Homo sapiens: one gene and its partner. The protein of the gene in region 1 interacts with the protein of each later gene in a pairwise test. Each region holds a gene or a part of one and is shown in the gene's direction. Other genes may lie near its edges.

Region 1 (10,754 bases):
GGGATTACAGGCATGAGCCTCTGCGCCCGGACTGTTTTTATTTTTTTGAGATGACGTCTTTCTCTGTCACCCAGGCTGCAGTACGGTGGCGTGATCTCAGCTCACTGCAACCTCTGCCTCCTGGGTTCAAGTGATTCTCCTGCCTCAGCCTCCCGAGTAGCTGGGATTACAGGCGTGCACCACCACACCCAGCTAATTTTTTGTATTTTTAGTAGAGACAGGGTTTCACCATGTTGGCCAGGCTGGTCTCCAACTCCAGGTGATCCGCCCGCCTTGGCCTCCCCAAGTGCTGGGATTACAGGCATGAGCCACTGCGCCCAGACAATATTTAACAACTTTTAACCTAAGAAATGGCAATATAGTGGTTCATCCTAATACTTCCCTTGTACCTTCCCCCATATACAGGGGAAAGTGAAGCAATGAGAGATCAAGCACCTTAATACAAAGCTGGGCGTCTGACTCCTAAGTCCATTCGAGTACCCACAGTGCACTTCAAGGCTAGTCTCAGTGCCCCTGCCCGGCCAAATTTGCCTGGATGACCTCTTGCTCTTCAAGAGAGTGCCTTTTTTTTTTTTTGAGATGGAGTCTTGCTCTGTCGCCCAGGCTGGAGTGCAGTGGCCCATCTCAGCTCACTGCAAGCTCCACCTCCCGGGTTCACGCCATTCTCCTGCCTCAGCCTCCCGGGTAGCTGGGACTAGAGGTGCCCGCCACCAAGCCCGGCTAATTTTTTTTTGTATTTTTAGTAGAGACGGGGTTTCACCATGTTAGCCAGGATGGTCTCGATCTCCTGACCTTGTGATCTACCCACCTCGGCCTCCCAAAGTGCTAGGATTACAGGAGTGAGCCACCGCGCCCGGCCAAGAGTGCCCTTCTTTAAGGTGCCCTGTGCATGCCTGTATCATCATGGCCTTTATCAGACCATCTTGTAACTGCCTGTTTACTTATCTCCATCTTTTATGGGACTTCGAGCTCCTGGAAGGCAAGGACCCAGCTACAGTCAGTCTGTATTTTGCCATTATCTAGAATTGTACCTGACACATTGTATATATTTACTATTGATTTGTTAAATGAATGAATGAGTGAAACAAATGAGTAAAAAAATAACTTGGAGAAAAAAAAGCAAATGGTAGATGGCATTAAGGAGAAGTAAAAAAAAAAAAAAACAGACAAAAAAGTCAAAAAAATGAAAAAAGGTCTGACTGGAGAACCCAGATGTTTATTCTAGGGTAGAAAGGAAAAGGGGCACACTCCTTGGCAGAGGGAGATGTATGAGGGGAAACAATGAAGGAGGGGTCTCACCAGGACAAGAGTCCTGATGGCTCACAGCATGCAGGACCTGGCAGAGTGTGGTGCAGGGAAGGCGAAGTAGCAGCCAGCTGAGTGAATCGAGAGCAATGGTGACAGGAACAGGATCTGTCCTCTTGCACATGGCTCTCAAGGCTCCCAGCGGCCCCCCAGGAAAGGCCTCCTCAGTTTTTGACCAGTTGAGAGGGTCTCTGAAGAAGTCATGGTAAACCAGCCTGCAAAGGGAAAATAAGACACAATATAATATTGCCCCTTCCCCCGAGAGGATCACAAAGTTCATCCTCTGATCTTTATGGCTGTTTTCTCAATTTTTATGAATATCCTAAATATTAGTGAAAGATAATTACTGAGAGAGAGCATACAGTGATTGAGAGCACAGACTTTGGTGTCTGACAGCCTGATCTCCAAGCTTGGCTTTGCTACTTGCCCAAGGTCAGCTAACTGATACATTATTTCTAAGAGTTGCCTCATTGGTGAAATGAGATGCCAACCTCTAAGCATTCAGCACAGTGCTTGACACATAGTATATGCCTGATAAATGTTAGTTATCACCATTATCAAATATTTCCTGTGTGTGGCACCTAAAGATTATCACCCTGGGTGAAAAAAGAGAAAGCAGAGGACGTGAGATTTGGTCCTGCCTGTAGAACAGCTTAAAGAAAGTCAAGAATTAAGTCAAGAAGTAACAACTACAGAAAAAACAGCTCAGGAAAGGGAGACTGGCATAGGTAGCAGAACTTTTTTTCCCAGATATCTCTTTTCTATCTTCTCTTGTGGAGTGCCCGCTTTTTTTTTTTTTTTTGAGACAGAGTTTCGCTCGTTGCCCAGGCTGGAGTGCAATGGCGTGATCTCCGCTCACTGCAACCTCTGCCTCCTGGGTTCAAGCGATTCTCCTGCCTCAGCCTCCTGAGTAGCTGGAATTACAGGCATGTGCCACCATGCCCAGGTAATTTTTTGTATTTTTAGTAGAGATGGGGTTTCTCCATGTTGGTCAGGCTGGTCTCGAACTCCAGACCTCAGGTGATCCACCCGCCTCAGCCTCCCAAAGTGCTGGGATTACAGGCGTGAGCCACCGCGCCCAGCCATGGAATGCCATCTGAACATACACCACCGCCTCTATCACAACAATGGCTGATGCAAAATTGGAGGCTCAACAGATAAGATGTAAACTACTATTATCATCCACTGAGTTGCCGGGACTAGGAAGTAGAAAGCATCCTACTAATGGTTCTTAATGTCTCCTGATCAGGCATGCCGCTGGGTTTAGGAACTTCCTTATCTCAATACTTTCTTCTCCCCCATATTAGTCAATAAATCCTGGAAATTCTACCCACTAAAGTCCTTTACATGTGTTCTAAACTTTCCATCTCTACTGCCACTGCCTTAAACCAGGCCTCTATCACTTCCTACCATTATTCCCTAAAATTCATTAGGTCAGGAACAGGTCTCACTCACTGCCGTCTCCAGTATCTTGCACAGCACCTGGTTGATAGTTGGTGCTCGGTACATATGTACCTTAAAGAGTGAAGCCGGATTAACGGATTACTGCAATACCCTTCCCACATGTTCTCCCTATTTCCAGGCTATTTCTCTCTCGACTTCTATGATCTTTGCTTTGGACTCCCCAAATACTCATCACTCCTCTTATTAATTCTTGCCTCCTGAAAGATCCATATCCAATTCTTCAATGAATATTTAAGGAACTGCTACTACATACCAGGTTCTGCGCTTGTTGTAAAGAAATTTCCTTAGCATTATAGGTCTCAAATTTAATCAAATCTCTTCCAACTGGTACTTACCGATTGTTGATATCAGAGTCAAAACCTTCACGAAACTCTTCCTCGCTCACTTCACAGCCCAGGATATGCACTTGCTCCCCACTAAGGCAGAGATGAGAAGGGATTGTCAAAGAGTGGGCACAGGTGCCCTATCCAGGGTAGGCCGGGGAGACACTGTGGGATACTCACCACAGTGCAGATTTCTTGACAAGCGCCTTCAAGAGACTGCGCCCCTCCCACTCCACGGAATCTGCAGAGCGAGGGACGGATAAAGGGTATGAGAGCGCTGGGATTACCGCCTTCGCGAACCCGTCGCGATTTCCACACCTAGCCTGTGACCCCTGGCCCTTCCTGCCCACTTCCGTCCCCTCAGCCAGGCCCGAACCGCACCCCCCGCCCCGCCACCGTGCCTCTGGCTCTCACCCCGAAGCAGCACCAGGCCGCCCAAGGCCAACAGCGAGTCCAACATCTCCAACTCGCGTCCGGTCCCTGCTCTGGCGCCCTCTGATGGCGTCATGACCCAGTGTCCTTCCTCCTCGGGGTGAAACGGGCCGAGCACTCGGGCGTCCTCCCACCATTAAGACCTAACATAGTCTGGAATGAGAGGTGATTATGTTCAATATTCCCAGGGGGGCGCTCACGCGGAGGGCGCCCCTCCCCGAGCCCTGGCGCACAGTCGTACGGACAACGACCCCGTCTACATTTTCACTGTGACCGGGGCGGGAAGAGCAGTTGGGGCAGTTGTCAGTGGGAGGGGGAGGAGGACCCACAAGCCCCCCGCGAGGGCCCTAAGCGCGGGCCAAGTGACGTCACTCTCCCCGCCCACGCAGTTTGAGGCGGGGCCTGCTTCGCCTCAGGCCCCGCCCCGCGGCCACCTTCTGCGCGTGCGCAATACTGCAGCCTCGCTTGGAGTGCTTTTGGCTTTCCTTATACCTACCCGCCATAGACCGCGCAGGAGGAACTTAGTCCCGGTGAAGCGAATACACGTCACCACCGGAAGTAGTGTCAAAGGGGAAGAGGAGGGGGAAAGACAGGAAGAGGGAGTCCTTTGGACGGTAAAATGGCGCCTGTCAGAGTGGGAAACCCAGCTGCAGAGGCTGCAGCCCCGGTCCCCAGCGGCTAAAGGACCCCCGAGCTCGGGGAGGGGGAGGCCGCTCCGGCCCAGCGCTCTGCGCCCTCCGGCTCCCCCTCCCCCTCCTTCCCTGCTCCTTCGCTCTGCAGGCCCGTTCTCCGCTGCCGCGGCCCTTTGCGCGCCGCTGCCCCCGCCCTCCCCGTTCCTGCGAGCAGCCCCCTAGCGCGCCTGCGCAGCGGGCCACTCTCTGCTTTCCCCCCCTCCCCTTCCCTTTTCCCTTCCTCCCTTTTCCCTAGCCCCCTCCCCCACTGCCCCCTCCCCCAATTATCCTTCCCCTTCCCTCCAGGTCTCGGAGGACCCCATCCTAGCCCTACCTGTCTCGGCCCGCAACCTCCCCGAAGCCGTCGGTGCCACTCCCAGCCCATGTGGGCCCCCGCGGGCTGCCCACGCCTGTCCCCCAGCTCCCCGTTCCGCTGGGCTTTACCCTCGCCAGGGGTGGCTTTCTGAGCCGCCCGCTCCGTGCCCCTCTCTGCAGCCTCTCCTGCCACTCGGGGCCCCCGTTCCCCCTCCCGGCGGCGGGGGGCTGCCCCCGGGGGGCTGGCGGAGCTGGGCCGCGGGGGCCCCGGGGCCGGCGGTGCCGGGGTCATCGGGATGATGCGGACGCAGTGTCTGCTGGGGCTGCGCACGTTCGTGGCCTTCGCCGCCAAGCTCTGGAGCTTCTTCATTTACCTTCTGCGGAGGCAGATCCGCACGGTGAGCCAGGGTGGGCGCTGGCGGTGTTGGGGACGTCTGGCGGTGTTGGGGACATCTGTCCGTGGTGCTCAGGGGTTTTCGGAGTGTCGGGCCTCTGTTTGGGCCTAGGAAGGGAATCCTGGCTGGGGCTTTTCTCGCCAGAGAATTGGGCACCCTAAGCGGGGCGAGGTGGGAGACCCTTGTAATAGAACCTTGCCCTTGGGGGTTTTGATGGGGCTAGATGGGACAGGATTTGGCAACTCTTGGGGGCTAAGGTGGTGGGTGGGGCGCTCTTTAAGAAAGCTGGAGTTGTTGCTAAAGAAACCAAGAGGCGGGGAACACCTGTTTGATGACAGCCGGATCTGTGGATGTGGGCTTGGGAAAGACCCTATTTGGAACCTCGGTGTGTGTTTGGTCCTATAACAAGGAAGAGACAGACTTGTGTGTCAAGGGTGGAGGTGGGTGGGAGGGCATACGTTACAAACAAGGACGGGAACTTGGGAAAGCCCTGGGTGTGAAGGAGAAACGCCTGCGGTTCCCATTAAGAGAATTCCTCCAAAAAGGCTGTGAAAATTTATTTCATAGTGTGAGTGTAGGTATCTGGATTTATTGAAGACTAAAGCAGATGCTTTTACGATGGGCCTCTTTAATTGTGGGAGGGAGTTCAAGGTGGGTGCTGTGCCCACCATTGAAGTTTGGGTGTCCCTGTCAGAGGACAGCGCTGGGCAGTTGTAGGGCTTGAAAATGAGGACGTTTGCTTCTCCAGGAGAGCCTAGCATTCTGAGGGAAACTGTCCGGATGGACCCAAGCATCTCTGGGTCCCCTCTCCCTTAGCTTTTCTCCAAGGTCAGAGGTCCTTCAGCTAACAGCACTTTAAATGAATGTGCTCTTGTGGTCTCACCACCACCAGGGAGAATCCTCGGAAGGAGTCTGGGGAGAATTTAGTAAGCGGAGACACAGGTTCTGGGTCTGTACTGTGGTCTGTACCCCTTAGCATACCTCAATACAATTTGAAAGAATAAACCCAGGTTGGGGTGACCTGGGGTCCAGAGAATTTCCAGAAAGCCCTCAGTGGTAGTGGTGGTTGATTTAACTGATTTGGGAGAATGGGTCTGGCCTTGGGTTCATTCTGTCCTTTACCAGTCTGCTTCCACTTCCTGATTTAGGGCGCGAACAGTACAGGATGGTTGTGGCTGTAGGCAGCAGCGCTATTCCCCCGAGACAAGAGCTAGGAGCCAAGAAAAATTTAGGGTCAGAGATGCTGGGATATGTGTGGGGCTATCTCCTGGGGTTTTCTTTTCTTTTCTGAGACAGTCTCGCTTTGTCGCCCAGGCTGGAGTGCAGTGGTGCCATCTCCGCTCACTGCAACCTCCACTTCCTGGGTTCAAGCGATTCTCCTGCTTCAGCCTCTCGAATAGCTGGGATTACAGGCACCTGCCACCACACCTGGCTAATTTTTGTAATTTTAGTAGAAACGGGTTTTCACCATGTTGGCCAGGATGGTCTCAAACTCCTGACCTCAAGTGATCTGCCCGCCTTGGCCTCACAAAAGTACTGGGATTGAGCCACTGCACCCGGCCTCCAGCGGTTTTCTTTATGGGTTGACTGCCATCTTCTCTGACGTTCTCGCTCCAACACATCAGTTTTCTGGGCATACGGAGTGGTGCTTCAGCTCATCCACAGGTTACTTCCAAAATTGCTCTCCTTTGGGCAGCACTGACCCCATAGCCTTTTGTCCTCCCTTCCCTTCCAATCTGGTTTCTTTCCCCACCCCGCTTCTGGCAGATGCTTGGAGCATTCCCTACATGCCCAGCATATGCAACCCGAGATAGCAAGGCTGGACACTGGAGCTCTTTCGGACCTCATCATGGCCCAGGGAGAAAAGAAGGGCAGATCTTGATTAGGGGGAGAGAGCCCTGTGGGTTTAGAAGGGAGAACCTGGTTCTGGTGTGGCTTGGGGCCTAGGTATGCACTGAAGAGGGTTTGTACCTTTGAAGAAAAGTGTGGAAGAGGGAATTGCCAGGCTTTGTATGGGGAGATGTGCGTATTAGGAAATAGCCCCTAGAGAATGCTTGGAGAAGCAGAGCTGGATGAGGTGGTGACGTCCTTGTCCCTTATTCACCTCTCACTTAACGGCCCTGACTTCACTCTGGCCTCCTCCAGACCCTGCCAGTCAGCCTGGCAGGGGCTTTCCAGTGTTCTTTGCCTCACCCTGGGTACCAGGATAAGGAGACTGTTCAGAGGGCTGAGGTTCTCTGAACTTGTGACTTGGCTAGAAGGGACAGAAGTGGACAGGTGGCTGGTTAAAATAGGCCTGGTGGCTTCTAGCCAGAGGAACTTAGCTGACCTGACAACCTCTGGATTCCCTCATTCTATATTCCCATTAAGGACCCAGGGATCTCCTCCCGACTCCTACTCCATGTGCACTAGGGAATCTGAGGCACTTAGTTCCCAATGATGGTAGTTGCTACAAATAATTCTTGGGGTGAAGGTTGCGTTGTGGGGGTCGTTTCTTTGTTCAGTGTAGCAGGATAATATCACAGTTAAGAGGGCAGCTTCGGCCGGGGGTGGTGGCTCTTGCCTGTAATCCCAGCACTTTGGGAAGCTGAGGCAGGTGGATCATGAGGTCAGGAGCTCAAGACCAGCCTGGCCAATATGGTGAAACCCCGTCTCTACTAAAAATACAAAAATTAGCTGGGCGTGGTTCGCGCGCCTATAGTCCCAGCTGCTTAGGAGGCTGAGGCAGGAGAATTGCTTGAACCTGGGAGGTGGAGGTTGCAGTGAGCTGAGATCGCGCCACTGCACTCCAGCCTGGGCAATGGAGTGAGACTCCCTTCTCAAAAAAAAAAAAAAGAAAAAAAAAGAGGGCACGTTCTTGGGTTGAACTGCATTGGTACAATCCTGGCTCTATCACTTCATTGATTCTACTTTTTTTTTTTTTTTTTTTTTTTTTTTTGCGACGGAGTCTTGCTCTGTCACCAGGCTGGAGTACAGTGGTGCGATCTCGGCTCACTGCAACCTCTGCCTCCTGGGTTCAAGCCACTCTGCTGCCTCAGCCTCCCGAGTAGCTGGGGCTATGGGCACGCACCACCACGCCCAGCTAATTTTTATATTTTTAGTAGAGACGGGGTTTCACCATGTTGGCCAGGATGGTCTCCGTCTCTTGACCTTGTGATCCGCCTGCCTTGGCCTCCCAAAGTGCTGGGATTACAGGCATGAGCCACTGCGCCTGGCTGATTCTACTAATATCAACTGACCACTTTTGCTACTGTGTTCTAGGCACTGGGAATACAGCCATGATCTAGACAAAATCATATTCTCATGGAGTTTTCATTTTAATTAGGGAGAGAAACAACTTAAGATAATTCCTAGCTGTGTGGCCTCAGTTTCTTTAACCTTAAAACAGGTATAACAGTAATATTATGGTTGTTTTGAGGATTAAATGAAAAAGGCCAGCGTAGTGGCTCATTCCTGTAATCCCAGCACTTTGGGAGGCAAAGGCAGGAGGATCACAAGGTCAGGAGTTTGAGACCAGCCAGGCCAATATAGTTAAACCCCGCCTCTACTAGAAATACAAAAATGAGCCGAGCGTGGTGGTGCACGCCTGTAGTCCCAGCTATTAGGGAGGCTGAGGCAGGAGAATTGCTTGAACCTGGGAGGCGGAGGTTGCAGTGAGCCGAGATCATGCCGCTGCACTCCAGCCTGGGCAACAGAGCGAGACTCCATCTCAAAAAAAAAAAAAAAAGAAGAAGAAATAAGCCTAAATTACATACATAGTACCTGTGGTAAATGTTCATTATGTGCTCCCTGTTACTGTTACTGGGGAAGGCTTCCTTATCAAGGGTTTCAATCCTCTTTTGTGCTATTTGTAGGTAATTCAGTACCAAACTGTTCGATATGATATCCTCCCCTTATCTCCTGTGTCCCGGAATCGGCTAGGTAAGTATGTGGTGGGAAGCCTCCTTTAGGGTGAAGTAGGGGCTAGCTCTGGGTCAGAGGTCGGTCAATATTATTCCTCCCCACTCTGGTTCAGCCCAGGTGAAGAGGAAGATCCTGGTGCTGGATCTGGATGAGACACTTATTCACTCCCACCATGATGGGGTCCTGAGGCCCACAGTCCGGCCTGGTACGCCTCCTGACTTCATCCTCAAGGTGTGTGGTGGTGGGGAGTGATGAAATGGTTCCATCTGTTCCTCTGCCCAAACCTGGACTCCCTTTCCCAGTCCCAGAGCATCTGTCTCCATCCGCTGGCACCAGTGTCAGCCTGGAGGAGGGAAGCAGATGGGTGGGGCGTTTTCTAGGCCTGGGTTGTGGTGGTCATGACATCCCCCAGCCCATCTTGTTCCTCTGTAGGTGGTAATAGACAAACATCCTGTCCGGTTTTTTGTACATAAGAGGCCCCATGTGGATTTCTTCCTGGAAGTGGTGAGTTTTGGAGAGCTAAAGGGAGCTCTGTAATGAAGGAATGGTTTTAGGGCTCTGGGAATTGGGAGGATTTGGAGGAAGGGGTGAGGAGAAACGGGTTAGAGCAGTTTTCTAGAGGGGAGGCTGTGTAATGGTAGGGGAGTGGCTTTCAGTACTTGGGGTTCATTTGTTGTGCTGATGTAATTCTTTTCCGCTGGCATCTTTCTCTTTTGTTCTTGCATTTCTGAATCATAAGAGTGTAGGATGCCTAACACTGAGTTTGGAGGTTTGGGCTGGGGGTTCAGAATTTCGTGTCCTCAGAGACATTTGATGTTGATGGAAGGCCTGAAGGACTATGCCATTGCCTTTCTGAAAGATAACTGTATGTCTAAAGGAATCATCACCTTGTATGGCATCGCCCTCTCCCCCAATCTATTTCAGGTGAGCCAGTGGTACGAGCTGGTGGTGTTTACAGCAAGCATGGAGATCTATGGCTCTGCTGTGGCAGATAAACTGGACAATAGCAGAAGCATTCTTAAGAGGAGATATTACAGACAGGTAAGCTAGAATCCCAGTCTAAGAGTGTGGCTTGGGAGGGAGGCCACCAGGGAGGGATCTGGGTTTGAGGAGAGTATCCTGGAGAGAGGCCTGCTACATGATCCCCTGCCTTCCAGCACTGCACTTTGGAGTTGGGCAGCTACATCAAGGACCTCTCTGTGGTCCACAGTGACCTCTCCAGCATTGTGATCCTGGATAACTCCCCAGGGGCTTACAGGAGCCATCCAGGTACGGGGGAAGGTGGTGAGTCTGGCAGGACCAGAACATGGTTCTGAGAAGGTATTTTTGCAGGAGACCTGGGCTTTGGTCCTTGAGAGCTGGGATTCCCTAGATTATCCCTAGTTTGCTGTAAGTCGAAATGCAAGTTATTTTTGTGTTTCAAATGAGATACCATATATGTCCATTTCATAAGTCGGATTTCTTATATCATTTTTTTCATTTTTAAAATTTATTTTTGGCTGGGCACGGTGGATTATGCTTGTAATCCCAGCACTTTGGGAGGCCGAGGCAGGCGGATCACGAGGTCAGAAGTTCGAGACCAGCCTAACAAACATGGTGAAACCCCATCTCTACTAAAAATAGAAAAAACTAGCCAGGCGTGGTGGCGCACGCCTGTAATCCCAGCAACTCGGGAGGCTGAGGCAGGAGAATCGCTTGAACCCGGGAGGCGGAGGTTGCAGTGAGCCGAGATTGCACCATTGCACTCCAGCCTGGGTGACAGAGCGAGACGCCGTCTCAAAAAAAATAAATAATAAATAAATAAAAATAAAATTTATTTTTATTTATTTTTTGAGATAGGGTCTCACTCTGTTCCCAGGCTGGAGTGCAGTGTCATGATCATAGCTCACTGCAGCCTCGATCTCCCAGGCTCAAGTGATCCTTCTGCCTCAGCCTCTCAGTAGTTG
Region 2 (15,502 bases), on another chromosome or scaffold:
TTGGTGGCTAATGATGAACATCTTTGTCTATGCTTCTTGGCCATTCATATGCCGTTTTTGCAGTAGTATTTATTCAGATCCTTTGTCCATTTTGTATTTTATTTTACTTTATTTATTTATTTATTTTTTTTCAGGTTCTCACTTTGTTGCCAAGGCTGGAGTGCAGTGGCACAATCATAGCTCACGGCAACCAAGACCTCCTGGGCACCACTGATCCTCCCACCTCAGCCTCCTGAATAGCTGTGGTTATAAGCACGTGCCACCGTGCCTGGCTAATTTTTGTATTTTTAGTAGAGACAGGGTTTCACCATGTTGGCCAGGCTGGTCTTGAACTCTTGACCTCAAGTGATCCGCCCACCTGGGGCTCCCAAAGTGCTGGGATTACAGGCGTGAGCCACCACGCCCGGCCCTTTGTCCATTTTTAAATTGGGTTACTTATATTTTTGGTTTTTTGTTGTACTTTTTTGTGGGTTTTTTTGTTTGTTTTTTGAGATGGAGTCTCACTTTGTCGCTCAGGCTAGAGGCAGTGGCATAATGTTGGCTCACTGCAACCTCTGCTTCCCAGGTTCAAGCAATTCTCCTGCCTCAGCCTTCTGAGTAGCTGGAACTACAGGCACGCGCCACCACACCCAGCGAATTTTTGTATTTTTAGTAGAGATGGGTGTTCACCATGTTGGCCAGGCTAGTCTCAAATCCCTGACCTCAAGTGATCTGCCCGCCTCAGCCTCCCAAATGCTGGCATTACAGACGTGAGCAACCTGGTTACTTATATTTTTATTGTTGAGATATAAGAGGTTTTTTCTTTCAAAAAATAAATTCTGCCTCCTGTCAGATCAGCAGGGGCATTACATTCTCATAGGAGTGCAAACCCTATTGTGAATTGCGCATGCGAGGGATCTAGGATGCACACTCCTTATGAGAATCTAACTAATGCCTGATGATCTGAGGTGGAACGGTTTCATCCGGAAACCATCCCCCCACCACCTCCCCAGTCCGTGGAAAAATTGTCTTCCATAAAACTGGTCCCAGGCGGTAATGCTGCAATGCTTGCTTGCCTGTTAGTGACCTCCTGCTATGTGGCCCGGTTCCTAACAAGCATTAGACCAGTACAGGTCCTTGGCCTGGGGTTTGGTGGCCCCCTGCTCTAAAAGACTAACATGGTCTCCATCTTGTTACATTTTGTAGACACAGAAAACTTTTTTGGTATGTTTGTTTAATTTTACAAAAAAAATAAAAGGATAAAACTAAAAAATAAATAAATAAATAAATAAATTCTGGATACAAGTCCCTTACCAGATATATGATTTGCAAATATTTCATTAAACTCTGTGTGTTGTCTTTTCACTTTCTCAGTGTTATGCTTTGATGCACAGAAGTTAATGATATATTTTAAAATTAAGATATAATTTACGTGCCATAAAATTAACCATTTTAGAGCTAAGCTATGAGGATGCAAAGGCATAAGAATGACACGATGGACTTCAGGGACTTCAGGGAAAGGGTGGAGCTGGTGAGGGATAAAAGACTACACATTGGGTACAGTGTACACCGCTCAGGTGATGGGTGCACCAAAATCTCAGAAATCACCACTAAAGAACTTATTTGCGTAACCAAACACCACCCGTTCCCCCAAAAACCTATTGAAATATTTTTTTAAGTAAAAATATTAACCCTTTCAAAGTATACAATTCAGGCCAGGCTTGGTGGCTCATACCTGTAATCCCAGAACAGTCGGAGGCCAAGGCGGCTGGATCACCTGAGGCCAGGAGTTTGAGACCAGCCTGGCCAACATGGAGAAACTTTGTCTCTATTAAAAATACAAAAATTAGCTGGATGTGGTGGTGCATGCCTGTAATCCCAGTTACTTGGGAGGCTGAGGCAGGAGAATCACCCGAACCTAGGAGGTGGAGGTTGCAGTGAGCCAAGATCACACCAGTGCGCTCCAGCCTGGGTGACAGAGTGAGATTCCATCTCAAAAAAAAAAAATAAAATAAAAAAATAAAAAAAAAAATATATATATATATATATACATATACACAATTCAGTGTTTTAATTATATTTACAAAGTCATGCAACCATCATCCCCATCTAATTCCACAACATTTTCATCACCCTCATAAAGTATCCTGTATCTATTGTTAGTCACTCCTGATTTTCTTTTTCCCTGGCAACCAGAATTCTACTTTCTGCCTCTATGGATTTACCTACTCTGAATATTTCATATGAATGGAAACATAGGGTTTATTCATTTTGTAACATTTCAGTACTTAATTCTTTTTCATTGTTGCAAAATAGAGTAATAGCCCATTGTGTATTTACCTCACATTTTGTTTATCCATTCATTATTTGATGGACATTTGAATTGTTTCCACTCTTAGGCTATTAGGAATAATGCTGCTATGCACATTCATGCATAAGGTTTTACTTAAATGTATGTTTTCAATTCTCTTGGATATATACCTAAGAGAAGAATTGCTGGTTCATATAGCAACTGTATGTTTATCTGATGTTCACCTTTTTGAGGAACTGCCAAACTATTCTCCAAAGTGGCTGCACCATTTTAAATTCCTACTAGCAATATATGAGTGCATCCTTATGAAATTGTGTGTTTTCTGTCCTTTTTTCTACTGATACGACATATTATATGAACGCATTTTCTGATGCTAAACTAACTTTGCATTCCTGGGATAAATCACATTTCATCGTGGTGTATAATACTTTTGATATGTTGCTGAATTTGATTTGCTAATTTTTTTGAGAATTTTTTGTCTATGTTCATAAGAGATACTCATTTTTTTTTCTTTTCTTTTTTGAGACAGGGTCTCACACTGTCACCCAGGCTGGAGTGCAGTGGTGCAATCTCGGCTCACTGCAACCTCCTCCTCCTGGGTTCAAGTGATTCTTGTGTGTCAGCCTCCCGAGTAGCTGGGACTACAGGCACACCCCACCACACCTGGCTAACTTTTATATTTTTTGGTAGAGACAGGATTTTGCCATTTTGGCCAGGCTGGTCTCAAACTCCTGACTCCAAGTGATCTGCCCACCTTGGCCTCTCAAACTGCAGGGATTACAGGTGTGAGCCACCATGCCCAGCTGAGATATTCATATATTTTTTAAAGGATGGTGGTGAATATCAACCTGCCATGGTATTTCTATTCCATTGAATACATTTAAAAGAATGATGCAATGGGCCAGGTGCAGTGGCTCACGCCTGTAATCCCAGCACTTTGGGAGGCCAAGGTGGGCAGATCACCTGAGTTCAGAAGTTGGAGACCAGACTGGCCAACATGGCAAAACCCCATCTCTAGTAAAAATGGAAAAATTAGCCGGGCATGGTGGCATGTGCCTGTAGTCCCACTACTCAGGGAGGCCGAGGCAGGAGAATCGCTTGAACCGGGGAGGGAGAGGTTGTAGTGAGCCGAGGTCATGCCACTGCACTCCAGCCTGGGTGACAAAGTGAGACTCCATCTCAAAAAAAAAAAGAATGACGAAATAGCTTTCTTTCCAAATGTCAATACCTACAACTTACCAGAAATTACATCTTTTACAAGTATTTAAACCCATGATGAAAATTTGTGATATCATTTTACAAACATGTGACATGGCATATAATCTTGTCAAAATTATTTTACAAGGTACAGCAAGAGAAACTGTATGAAGATCACTGTCACTGTTATAATCATTTTAGGGAGCCACCAGAGGGTTCTGAGCAGGAGAGCCATGCTATCTTTTAGTGTTTTACAAAGCACTGTTGGAGACGGAGTAGAAGCTGGAAGCCAGTTAGAGGCCACTGCAGTAATCAAGCCCAAATGGTGCTGTGGACCAGGTAGTAGTGAAGGTGGTGGGAAGTGATTCTTTGGTGTTGTTTTTGTTGTTTTTCAGACAAGGTCTTGCTGTCACCCAGGCTAGAGTGCAATGGTGTGATCATAGCTTACTGCAACTTCAACCTCCCAGGCTCAAGTAAGCCTCCTACCTCAGCCTTCCCAGTAGCTGGGACCACGTCCAAATATTATTTTTTTCAGAGACAGAGTCTCACTGTGTTGTCCAAACTGAAATATTTAATATATGTTGAGGGTAGAGCTAATAGGGTTTGCTATCTGATCTGATGTACCACGTGGAAAGAGAGAACGAGAGAGAAGGAATATATCTCCAGCTACAGGGTTCAGGGTTGATCAACTCATCTACTCATCTATAAACTCATCTCTGAAATGAATTTGATAGCACCCCTTGGCTCATAGAGCTGTTGTTGTGACGTTTAAAGAAGATTCAATGCTCCTGAACTAATAAAAGGCAGAGTGGCAACCCCCTAGTAAAAGATAACCAACTTTAACTATTTTATAGGTGATCTCTCTTAGCAGCTGATCTTCATCTTATCATTGCTGTTTTAAGGGTCATTAGTGTTTTGTCTTCTTTTGTTTTTACACTAAACTCTACCTTCATAGACAGTAGGAGTGAGTCTTACAGATCTTTGCATCTTCAGCTCATACTCTAGTGCCTGGAACACGTCTTCCTTAAATATGTGTTACTATCTCCTCCTTGCCAAGTCCCATGGATATGAAGTTCCGAAATCTGTTCCTTTTCATCTCCCCAACTACCTCATGGTCCAAATTCCTTAACCTGACTATGAGACCCTATTTTCCTGTCTCCCTCCCCTATGTCCCCCAATCCCTCTATCCATAAATGTAGACACCAATGACAGGCAAATAACATGCACCCTTTCAAAAGCATGTTCAATATTTATTTTAACACAGTTGAGAGTGAAGGATAGCGAGGCAACACCCCAGGAGGTAGCCCTTACTGTTCCCTCTGTTGTCCCAAGCTCTTGCTAGAAACTTGCACACCCCCCTCAGGCAAACAAAAGCCCTGCAGTTAACAGAACTGTCCCTTTTGAAGGCAAGTCAGCAAAGCCTCCACTCACCACAATGCTTTGCAATGCCCTATTCATCAGTCTGTCTTCACTCCTCACCTCCCCAGGATCTAGCCCAGGAGAGCCTGTCATATAACAGATGTTCAATAGCCATTCTCTAAGCACTGCTGTGTGCCGAAGGGAAATGTGATGAATTAGACTTGGAGATGGAGAAATGGAACATTGAGCAAGAAGTCAAAATGGGTAGTTTGACTTAGGGCTTAAAATCAGGCTATGACAATAATTGTGAGATCCGGGCAAACTGATTTTTACTTTCTCTGTTGTGAAATGGGCCGTGATGACTTTCGAACTTTCAAACTTTTTTTTAAAGTGGAACTCTCGGGTATATGCTTTGTACTGTGATGAGAACACGGTGAGCATGCACACACATCCACACACAACGGAAACAATAGGCCATGAAACCCCACATCCTTACTTCCAATTAGGTTTCTTTTTAGTTTTTTTTTTTTTTTTTTTTTTTTTTTTAGACAGGGTCTCACTCTGTCACCCAAGCTGAAGTGCAGTGGTGTGATCTCGGCTCATTGCAACCTCTGCCTCCTGGACTCAAATGATTCACCCAGCACAGCCTCCCAAATAGCTGGGACCATAGGCACACACCACCATGCCCAGCTAATTTTTTGTATATTTTGTAGAGAGAGGGTCTCACCGTGTTGCCCAGGCTGGTCTCAAACTCCTGACCTGAAGCAATCCATCCGTCCCAGCCTCCCAAAATGTTGGGATCACAGGCGTGAGCCACAGTGCCTGGCCTTAATTCATTAAAAAAAAAATAGTCATCATGTGCCCCATAAATATATACAGCTACCATGAACCCACAAAAAAATTAAAAATAATAATAATAGTCATGAATCAGTACATAGATTTTACAAACCTCTCTAGATTTTGACCCACGGTTTAAAAAATATCACCTGAAAGGGTTAAGGGTGATAACACATGGAAAGGGTTTGGTCCCAAGGAAGGCTCCCTAAGTGGAAAACTGAAAAGTGCTATAGTAGAGGAACCTTCAAAATGAAGTGGTGGGTGGGGGTGTCAATTAATTCTGCTGACAAATGGGAAGGAGGAAGGTTGAGGATGAATTAAATACACAAAATACCAATAGGGGAAAAACTGCAGTGCTGCTTAGAACCTTCTTAGCCCTCATCTTTGCATGGCTGGATTCTTCTCATCCATCTTTTCATTCTCAGCTCAAATGCCTGTGCCTCATGAAGCCCTCCCAAAGCATGAGATCCTGCTAACCTTCCTTTTTCTCACTGTATCCTATTACTGTTACTCCCTCCATAGAACTGTCAACTAAAGGATCATGAGGTTCATAAATCTGGGGAGGAGAGCTTTATTTCTGCTTGTTTGTTTGTTTGTTTGTTTGTTTGTTTGTTGAGACAGGGTCTTGCTCTGTTGCCCCAGCTGGAGTGCAGTGGTGCAATCATAACTCACTGCAGCGCCGAACTCCTGGGTTCAAGCAATCTTCCTGCCTCAGCCTCCTGAGTATCTGGGACCACAGCCACATGCCACCATGCCCAGCTAATTTTTAAATGTTTTTTGTTTGTTTGTTTGTTTTTTGTAGAGACAGAATCTCACTATGTTGCCCAGGTTGGTCTGGAACTCCTGGACTCAAGTGATCCTCCCACTTCAGCCTCCCAAAGTGTTGGAATTACAGGCATCAGCCACTGTGCCTGGCCTAAAGAGGTTTATTTCTGAAGGGTTGGAGCCTGCAGGCTGGCCATCCTTATAGGCTGGGAAGTATGGTCTCTGGCAGAGACCAAAAGCAGGCACTTTGAAGGAGGAAGGGTGAAGCAGGAATTTATGCCAAATGGGTTGGCCAAGTATACATATTTAACAGGTTATAGGAGAAGCTATTCAGGAAAGAGGGGTGCACACATGCATAATAAACAATCATGCATGTTACATGGGTCACATGTTCACTTTGGGGTAGAGACTTAACATTTAAATGCATTACAGTTAGACCCTTTACGTCAAAAGGCGAAGCAGAGAACATAAAGGCACTCATTGTGCAGCCTCTGTAGACTGGCTAGGGCCAATCTATGGTGGGTGGTCTCTTATCAGGAGAAAGTTACTGAAATCAGTCTCTTGTCTAATGAAAGCAGGAGTTATGGCTTGTGGAACAAAGGGATCAGTTAGTCAGTGACTGGTACTTGGTAAGCTGCAATTGTTTTAATATTGCTTGTTTAGCTGCTAGAGGAAAAAAACGAACATTGTGGCAGTTAGAACATCGTTTATTCTTTAAGTGTCTGGGTCTTGAGTGATTTAACCCTTGCCTGGCAGGGCCTTAGGTCTTGTTTATAAGTTGGTATGTTACTGCCACAAAAAAATCTAGCCCATCAGTCTTAGATTCTTTTTTTTTTCTTTTTCTTTTTTGACAGTCTCACGCTGTCACCCAGGCTGGAGTGCAGTGGCTCACTGCAACCTCCGTCTCCTGGGTTCAAGTGACTCTCGTGCCTCAGCCTCCCAAAGAGCTGGGATTACAGGCATGCACCACCACGTCTGGATAATTTTTTTGTATTTTCAGTAGAAACAGGGTTTTGTCATGTTGCCCAGGCTGGTCTCAACTCCTGACCTCAAGTGATCCACGCGCCTCAGCCTCCCAGAGTGTTGGGATTAACAGGCGTGAGCCACCGCGCCCGGCCAGGATCTCTATTTTAACACAACTATTCTTATTTGAAATCAATTACTTATTTGCATGTTTGTTGCCTGCTGTAGCCCTTCCTCTTTGCGGGCAGGAATCCTGTCTACCTGGCTCACACGCGTATCAATACAGTGTCTAGCATGTTAGGCAATAAAATGATTTTGAATGAAAGAATGCCACCAATAAATGAACAAGAAGGCCTTGTGATCAAATACAAATGTAGTCAATCCCTTACAGATCTCTTCTTAAGTTATAGGTATTTGGGCTTACACTTTGCCTCATTTAGGAATTATGAAAGCTGGGTGATGTGAGAGGAAAGTAACCAAGAGAGAAGTGTTTACTTAAGGGGTTGGTTATCTAGGATACCATAATTAAGGAAACTGGTTATTTAGGGTTCTAGTTAGTTCTGTACAGATTTCATTACTCCTTGAGATCCTTGAGGACAGAACCAGCTCTTTGATTTCTGTATCCCTCGCTAGCGACCAGAATAATGCCTGGAAGGTAGTGGGCGCTCAATCAACATTTGACGAATGAAAGAACCAAGCGGGGAACGGGGGATAAATGAATGAACGAACTGGCTCCGGAGGGCTGCAGTTCCTCCCCGGGGCAGCAGGCGACGCCAGCGTTACGCCCGCCTGGCCGCCGGCAGTTCTTGGTCCCTCCGGCTGACCGTCCAACGCTAGGCGCCGAGGCCGGTGCAAGAGACAGCCAATAGAAAGCTGTCTTAGTTGGAGGTCTAGTAGAGGAATCCAATGAGCGTAGCGGGTCTAGGCAAGGGGCGGTGCGACGGGGAGGGGCAGCGGGGAGCGGTTAGAGGTGGGAGTTGGCGCTGCGGGCCGGGCGGGGGCCGCGGAAGCTGCGATGCGGACAGGGCAGCGGCGGTGACCCGAGCTGCCGCCCGACATGAACTCGCTGGAGCAGGCGGAAGGTAGGGTGGGCCGCCCGGGCCCGTCCCCCGTCTCCCCTCGGAAGCTGGCGGTGCTCCGGAGGAGCCGGCGTCGTGAAGACCCCCGCCCCGGGAGGAGGCCGCAGAGGATGGAGCTAGGGGCCCGGAGCTTGGGGGCGCGTAGGCGGCCGTACCTGGCCAGACGCGGGGGGCGGTGCCTCAGCTCCCTGAGTCCCCACAAACCTAGAGGGTCGACCTCCTCGCCAGCTTCTATTTTTATTTTCTTTTCACTGGCAGACACTTGCACTTCGTGCATTGCAGCCTGCTAATTCATTTCATTTCATTCTCACAGCCCCGCGAGTTGTATCCCTGATTCCTGCGGTGGTTTCCGGTAACTGCCAAGGTTAGGAAGTGCTGCTCGGTGTTTTAAAGTTTAAAGCACACCACTGCGGAAAGGATACCCCACCACTCACTCGGAGCAGCTTAGACGCCCCTGTCTTCTAGAACTAGGCGCTGCCTGGGTGCCACGAAGATCACCTGTACCCCTTCGGAGGGGGCAAGGGGAATGTCTTTCCACACCCACTCGCTATCAGTGTCAAGAAGTCTAGTAAGGCCAGACGGCGTAGCCATTAATTAAATATAAGAGCTGGAAACCGGAGGCGGGTAATTGCAGTCAGGTAGACCTCGAAGACTTTGATGTTAGGCACTACGTGGTTCTAATAGGAAGTTCTTGGTTCCCAGAGAGCTAAAACTCGACCTGATTTTAATTTTATTTGCAACCCTGAAAATGTTCGCTTTTGGCGCTGGCCGAGGCTGCTGCTTATTTCTCCCAATACCATTTATGAAGCTTCTAAAAGTAAATCAGCAAGTTTTCTTATATGAGAAATTGGAATTAAAGAGCCCTAATTTTTTGTCAAGTGCTTAAAAAGCTGTCATAGTAAATGAAATAAACAGTGCAGTGATACATGGAAGTTAGTGTGTAAGACCTGAAGCAGTTAAGAGTATCTCACATGTCGTCTTAATGTTAGGTAAATACTCTGACATTTCGTCAGACGAGTAAGAGTGGCTAATTAGAAAATTGACATCTTTATACCTAGATCTCAAGGCTTTTGAGAGGAGACTTACTGAATATATTCATTGTTTGCAACCTGCTACTGGACGCTGGAGAAGTAAGTTCCTGAATGTTATTTTAAGGGAAAACTAACAATTGATACTTTTATCCTAATATAGGAATGATTTGCTTTTATGTAAAATGTTTGTTTAAATTTATTTAACATTGTAGACAATGCCTTATGAAGAAATTTTTAAGAAAAGGAAATTATAACTGGCCTTCTCAAAAGAACAGTCTATTTCGTGTGGTTGTTTTTGTTTTTCCATTAAAAAACATATTTTTTGGCCAGGCGCCGTAGCTCACGCCTGTAATCCCAGCACTTTAGGAAGCCCAGGCAGGCGGATCACCTAAGGTCAGAAGTTCAAGACTAGCGTGGCCAACACGGTGAAACGCCGTCTCTACTAAAAATACGAAATTAGCCGGTCGTGGTGACGCTGCCTGTGATCCCAGCTACTCAGGAGGCTGAGGTGGGAGAATCGCTTGAACCCGGGAGGCGGGGATTGCAGTGAGCCGAGATTGCGCCATTGCACTCCAGCCTGGGCGACAAGAGTAAAACCCGGTCTCAATAAATAAATAATAAAAATATTTAAATTTTTGAATTATTACAGTTTTGATAAAGACATACCTAATAAAAATTTCAGTAGCCCGTTTAGCAGTTTTATAATTTGCCTACAAACTATTGGAATAAAATTTTAGTAAGAAGAGTCATATTAATAGGGCTCAGTGAGTCACGCATATAATCCCAGCACTTTGGGAGGCCGAGGCTGGAGTATTGCTTGAGCATGGGAGTTTGAGACCAGCCTGGGTAACATGGAGAGACCCCATCGCGGTGGCTCACGTCTGTAATCCCAACACTTTGGTAGGCCGAGGCGGACGGATCACGAGGTCAGGAGAGCGAGACCATCCTGGCTAATACGGTGAAACCCCGTCTCTACTAAAAATAAAAAAATTAGCCGGGCGTGGTGGCGGGCGCCTGTAGTCCCAGCTACTCTGGAGGCTGAGGCAGGAGAATGGAGTGAACCCAGGAGGCAGAGCTTGCAGTGAGCCGAGATTGCACCACTGCACTCCAACCTGGGCGACAGAGCGAGACTCTGTCTCAAAAAAAAAAAAAAAAAAATTTAGCCAGGCATGGTGGCACACCCCGAGGTCCCAGCAACTTGGGAGGATCACTTGAGCCCAGGAGGTCGAGGCTGTAGTGAGCTATGTAGTGAGCTAAGTGAGCTATGTTCACTGCACTCCAGCTTAGGGAACAGAGGGAGACCCTGTGTTTAAAAAAAAAAAAAAGTAAAGTCATGTTATTTAATGTATACTTGGAAAAGTTACAAAATTACCCTTAGTTGATTTTTAACAAAGCATAATTGTGCTGCTTTGAAGTCTGACCTAGAAAATTCACATTATTACTATCTATTCATAAGTATCATGAGTGCTACAAAATATAATTTGAACAGTGCTTACTTGCCCATGGAAATACATAGGAAATGTGGACAAATATATGAGCCATGAGATCATCAAACAAAATGCTTTGTTAATATGTGTTTGGAATAGTTTTTATTTGTTTTTGTTTTGGAAATGGAGTCTAGCTCTGTTGCCCAGGCTGGAGTGCAGTGGCGCCATCTTCGCTCACTGCAACCTCTGCCTCCCGGGTTCAAGTGATTCTCCTGCCTCATCCTCCCTAGTAGCTGAGATTACAGGTGCCCGCCACCACGGCAGCTAATTTTTTTGTGTATTTTTAGTAGAGATAGGGTTTCTGCATTTTGGCCAGGCTGGTGTCAAACTCCTCACCTCAGGTGATCCTCCCATCCTGGCTTCCCAAAGTGCTAGGATTACAGGTGTGAGCCACCACGCTGGGCCAAATAGTTTTAATTTCCTAGATGGTCATTATTTAGATTTAATTCCTATCAAGAAGGAAGTGTAGTAGCACACATTGAGGATTTACTTTATTTCAAAGTGTAAATCAGTTTGCTGGACCAAAAAAGCACTATTGAAGCTAAGGATCTAAGGATCTGGCAAGATTTTTTTGTATAATTTTTATTAAATCTATTTGCAAAGTTTTATTAGTATGCTGTGAGAATTCTGGTTGGTCAGAATTTACAGGTAATGATTTTCCTAGGTTCTCTGGTTTACCTAGGAATTATCCCCAAAACCTATGTTTCACTGTTACTTGAAAATCTTTTAAAATGTATATGATACTGCCCTATCTTATAAAATGTGATATAAATATACTTTACTTTTTCTCTGACTCATGGTCTTAGCACTTACTTGGTTAATGAACCAGTCAAATAAAGCATGTGTATGAGGTCCTTTCTAGTGTATTGATTTTGCTTTTTCTTATTTTTTTAAAACATACATGTGTAATATAGTGCATTTCTGGAAATACAGAATTGTAAGAAATTGAGTTCAGTCTGTTCTGAGTTCAGAACATAGTTTTGATATTTTGATCCTATTTAATACCTAAAACAAGATTTTTTTTCTTTAGTTTACGTCTTCTAAAAGTACATCAAGGAATTCTAGATAATTAAGGTTTTACTATATTTGTATATTTGCTATATTTCTGTTGTTCTTGGAAACTGAATTTCCACATTTGAAAAATGTATGCATCCTAGCTGAAAGACAGGCAACGGTCATCATCTCCAGAATATTAACTGGGTCTTGATGCCCCTTTATTATTTTTTACTAATACCATTCTTAAGTTTTACTTATGATTTATTTAGAATTTCTAAAATCATTCTAGCTTAGTGGAGAGAAAGACCTTTTCTAAGTTTTACTGGCAGTAATTTCTACCCTACCTTTCTTTAAGTCTCTTAAAGAAAATCCGATACTAACTGGTGTGCTCCATACTTCCTGCACTGACTTTAATGTAACCATGGCAGTCATCTGCAAAGCAAAATCCTTTAGTCAGTCTTCTCAGTACATTCAAAAAGGAGTCTTTGATGGTTTGTTTACAGTAGAAAATGAGTTTGTTTTTTTAATTTGAGTTTACAAGATCTGCAAAATCTTCACTAAGCACAGTGAACGTTACATAGCGTAGACTCTTCTACTGAAGTGTCACCATCGAATTGCTTTTTATTTCATTGATCATCATAAGTTCTGACCAAATCATAAGAGAAACAGTATCCTTAATTACTAAGGTTCACAATGTTTAAGAGAATTCCTCGAAGCCAGATGGCAAGCCTTCTAATTCCTGAGTCTAGTTAGTGCATTTTCCATTTAATAAAGTGCTATATTCTTTGGTTGTCATTTAGTAGGAACTGGTGGTGATAGTATCACATATTAAGTATGTATTTGCTTACTAATTTCGTGTTTATCTTTCATCAGTGCTTCTTATAGTGGTATCTGTCTGTACAGCTACTGGTGCCTGGAACTGGTTAATAGACCCTGAGACACAAAAGGTAGAAGTTTTGTTTTAAAATCATTAGCATAATTAAATGAGATAATGGATATTGTAGTGCTTTGTTAATGATAAAGTATTCAAACACTACCTATTAACTACTACTAGTGATATTGTCATATTAAAAATATGCCTTTTATTAATTTGCTCAAGGAAGATTTTGGCTGGCTATTGTGAATTAAGTATGTCTACAGGGAAAAGGTCTAAGAGATGCTATTATTTCTTAGACATTTATTTGTTATTTGTCATTCACTTCTGAATTTATCATTTTTACATTTTTTTTATATCTCTCATTTTTACTTCAGTGTGAGTATTATCTTCATTCTGCTTTGTTCATTGAGTGTCATCAGTGCCAGCTTTTAAAAGTTCTAAAATAGGCCAGGCATGGTGGCTCATACCTGGAATCCCAACACTTTGGGAGGCCAAGGGAGGAGTTCAAGACCAGCCTGGGCAATGTCATATAGCAAGACCCCATCTCTACAAAAAATTTAAAAATCAGCCAAGTGTAGCATGCTGTACCCAGCTACTTGGGAGGCTGAGGTGGGAGGATCACTTGAGCTCAGGAGATCGAGGCTGCAGTGAGCTATGATTGTGCCACTACACTCCAGCCTGTGTGACAGAGCTAGACCCTGTCTCAGAAAAAAAGAGGGAGAGAAAAAAATTGTAAAATAACATTTTCTTCTATGAGTTATCTCTGTTAATACCTTTCTTCATCCCATAAAACACTGGAGATGACTTTACAGGAAACACACATGATAAAATAGCAAAATACACATATAATAAAAAGTCAGGACTAGATAAAAACAAGTTGGACCATGAGGTCAAAACCAGAAAGGAAACCAGCTCACTGATGTATAGGCCATGTTTCCCAACACACTTGCCAGAATTGGATTATAAATTAGTCTCTGAGTTACCTAATCAGTGAAGTCACAGTTAATTCTGTGATTTTCATTGCCTGTAAGATAACACATATATCAATTCCTTGGGCTAGCAAAGCTTTTCTTTCCCAACATTTATCTCTGAAAAAAAATTTCTTGCCTGAAGTTTAATACAGGAAACACTGAGGGATCTCCCACTGGGCACTGTGCAAGAATATCCCTATACCAAATGCAATAACTGATTTCATAATGTTATTCCTTGAAGCATCCTTTGATGAAAGCTGATAGCATGTTTCTCAAATTTCCACCTCTTTCTACTAATTTGTGCTTTAATTTCAAACTCAGGGCTTTTTTTTATTAGAGAAGTAGTTAGTCTCCAATTTTTTAGTGAAGTTTCTTTCCCCCAGTGCAGTTTTATTTAGGGAGTAATGATGTAATTTTCACAAATCTTAAAAATCCCCTCCCCGCTTTAAGCTGCAATTAAGTAGACTACTTTCAGTAGCTCTATTTGTACCTTTTAGGTTTTACAGAAGAAAAGCCTAAGAGAAGGCTTTTGTCATCAGTCTCCATGGCAATTCAGACAGCCAGAGAAGTTTATTTCGCATATAGTCTCCCTAACTTTATCTGCTGAGGTGGAGATATTTAAAAGGATAGGAAGCAAGGGGAGATTGGTGATGGAATTTTATGTTAATAGAGGATTTTTATGGCAGACAGGAAACTCTCTTGTGTGTTCATTTATAAAAATCTGATCTTAAGGCTGCACTTGGTAGTCATCTTTAGGGGAAGAGTGGAAAGAGGCTGGCAAGAAGATTGAAAAAGATCCATCTTGGGAAATGAGTCTGACTTCTAATTGGGAAAAATATAAGCTGATCTCAGCTAGTTGAGATCTTAATAAAACACAGAATTAAATGTAATTTGAAATAGGCCCAAAACTATGTAGTTAATATAATTTTCTAAATTAGGTGAGAATATAACTATTCGCCTAAGGGTTGGCTCTTTATATTTCAGTATTTAATAACCCCAAACCTGACAGGAGTTTTAACCAGCAATTGTATCTGTAGCAAGAGTTGCAAACTCAGGAGCAGTGGCTAGGTAGAAGAACCTAGGGAGAGAAAGAATATGGCAGACAGGAAGTACCTGACTGCCTGGCCTGGAGAGAACTGCTGTTTCAATGCATTGGAGTGTTGCCATGGAGGGAGGAAGGCTGAAACTGATGGCCTAATTAAAATGAAGACATAAAGCACTGTATATGCTAACCTGGTGCAGGCCACACACAACAGAGCTGGCTTATGAGAAACTCCTCGGAGGTTTGAAGAAGACGTTCTTCTGGAATATTAACTTTTCCTTGGGTCATCATCTTTCTGGGAGCTTCTTTCCTGGTATTTTCAGCCTCTCATTTCTTCATCTGACAAACTTCTGTAACCAGTACCATGCTGAGCCATCTACCTGGTGCTTCTGTCTTGAAACACGTGCCTGCGCGTCTCCTGCTGTGAGAGTGGAGTGGGGATGTGCTTAACTTGATTCTCTTGCTCCCATCTAGTTACTAATCCACTTGATTTCTTTCTACACAGGCTCTAAATGCTTGTCTTCTCTGTGTCTCCAGTCAACGTTTCCATTTCGGTGCCTATTCTTATTCCAGTCATGGATCCTGGACCCTTGTCCCTCTACATATTC

The links.
Region 2: the proteins of CTDNEP1 (region 1) and CNEP1R1 interact in binary tests that used the Homo sapiens proteins (3 or more experiments, as listed by UniProt).

What each region holds. Positions count from the first base shown.
Region 1 is NC_000017.11:7,245,349-7,256,102, reverse strand, and holds the start of CTDNEP1 (CTD nuclear envelope phosphatase 1), read left to right. Parts: upstream 1-4,368; 5' UTR 4,369-4,806; coding exon 4,807-4,908; intron 4,909-8,759; coding exon 8,760-8,826; intron 8,827-8,920; coding exon 8,921-9,039; intron 9,040-9,240; coding exon 9,241-9,312; intron 9,313-9,732; coding exon 9,733-9,849; intron 9,850-9,965; coding exon 9,966-10,077; intron 10,078-10,754. Other genes in the region: ELP5 (elongator complex protein 5), read right to left, coding at 1,300-1,520, 3,105-3,185, 3,273-3,333, 3,507-3,600. UniProt on the Homo sapiens protein: Serine/threonine protein phosphatase forming with CNEP1R1 an active phosphatase complex that dephosphorylates and may activate LPIN1 and LPIN2.
Region 2 is NC_000016.10:50,016,848-50,032,349, forward strand, and holds the start of CNEP1R1 (nuclear envelope phosphatase-regulatory subunit 1), read left to right. Parts: upstream 1-8,377; 5' UTR 8,378-8,468; coding exon 8,469-8,493; intron 8,494-8,803; coding exon of another isoform or gene 8,804-8,854; intron 8,855-9,548; coding exon 9,549-9,620; intron 9,621-12,877; coding exon 12,878-12,951; intron 12,952-15,502. UniProt on the Homo sapiens protein: Forms with the serine/threonine protein phosphatase CTDNEP1 an active complex which dephosphorylates and may activate LPIN1 and LPIN2.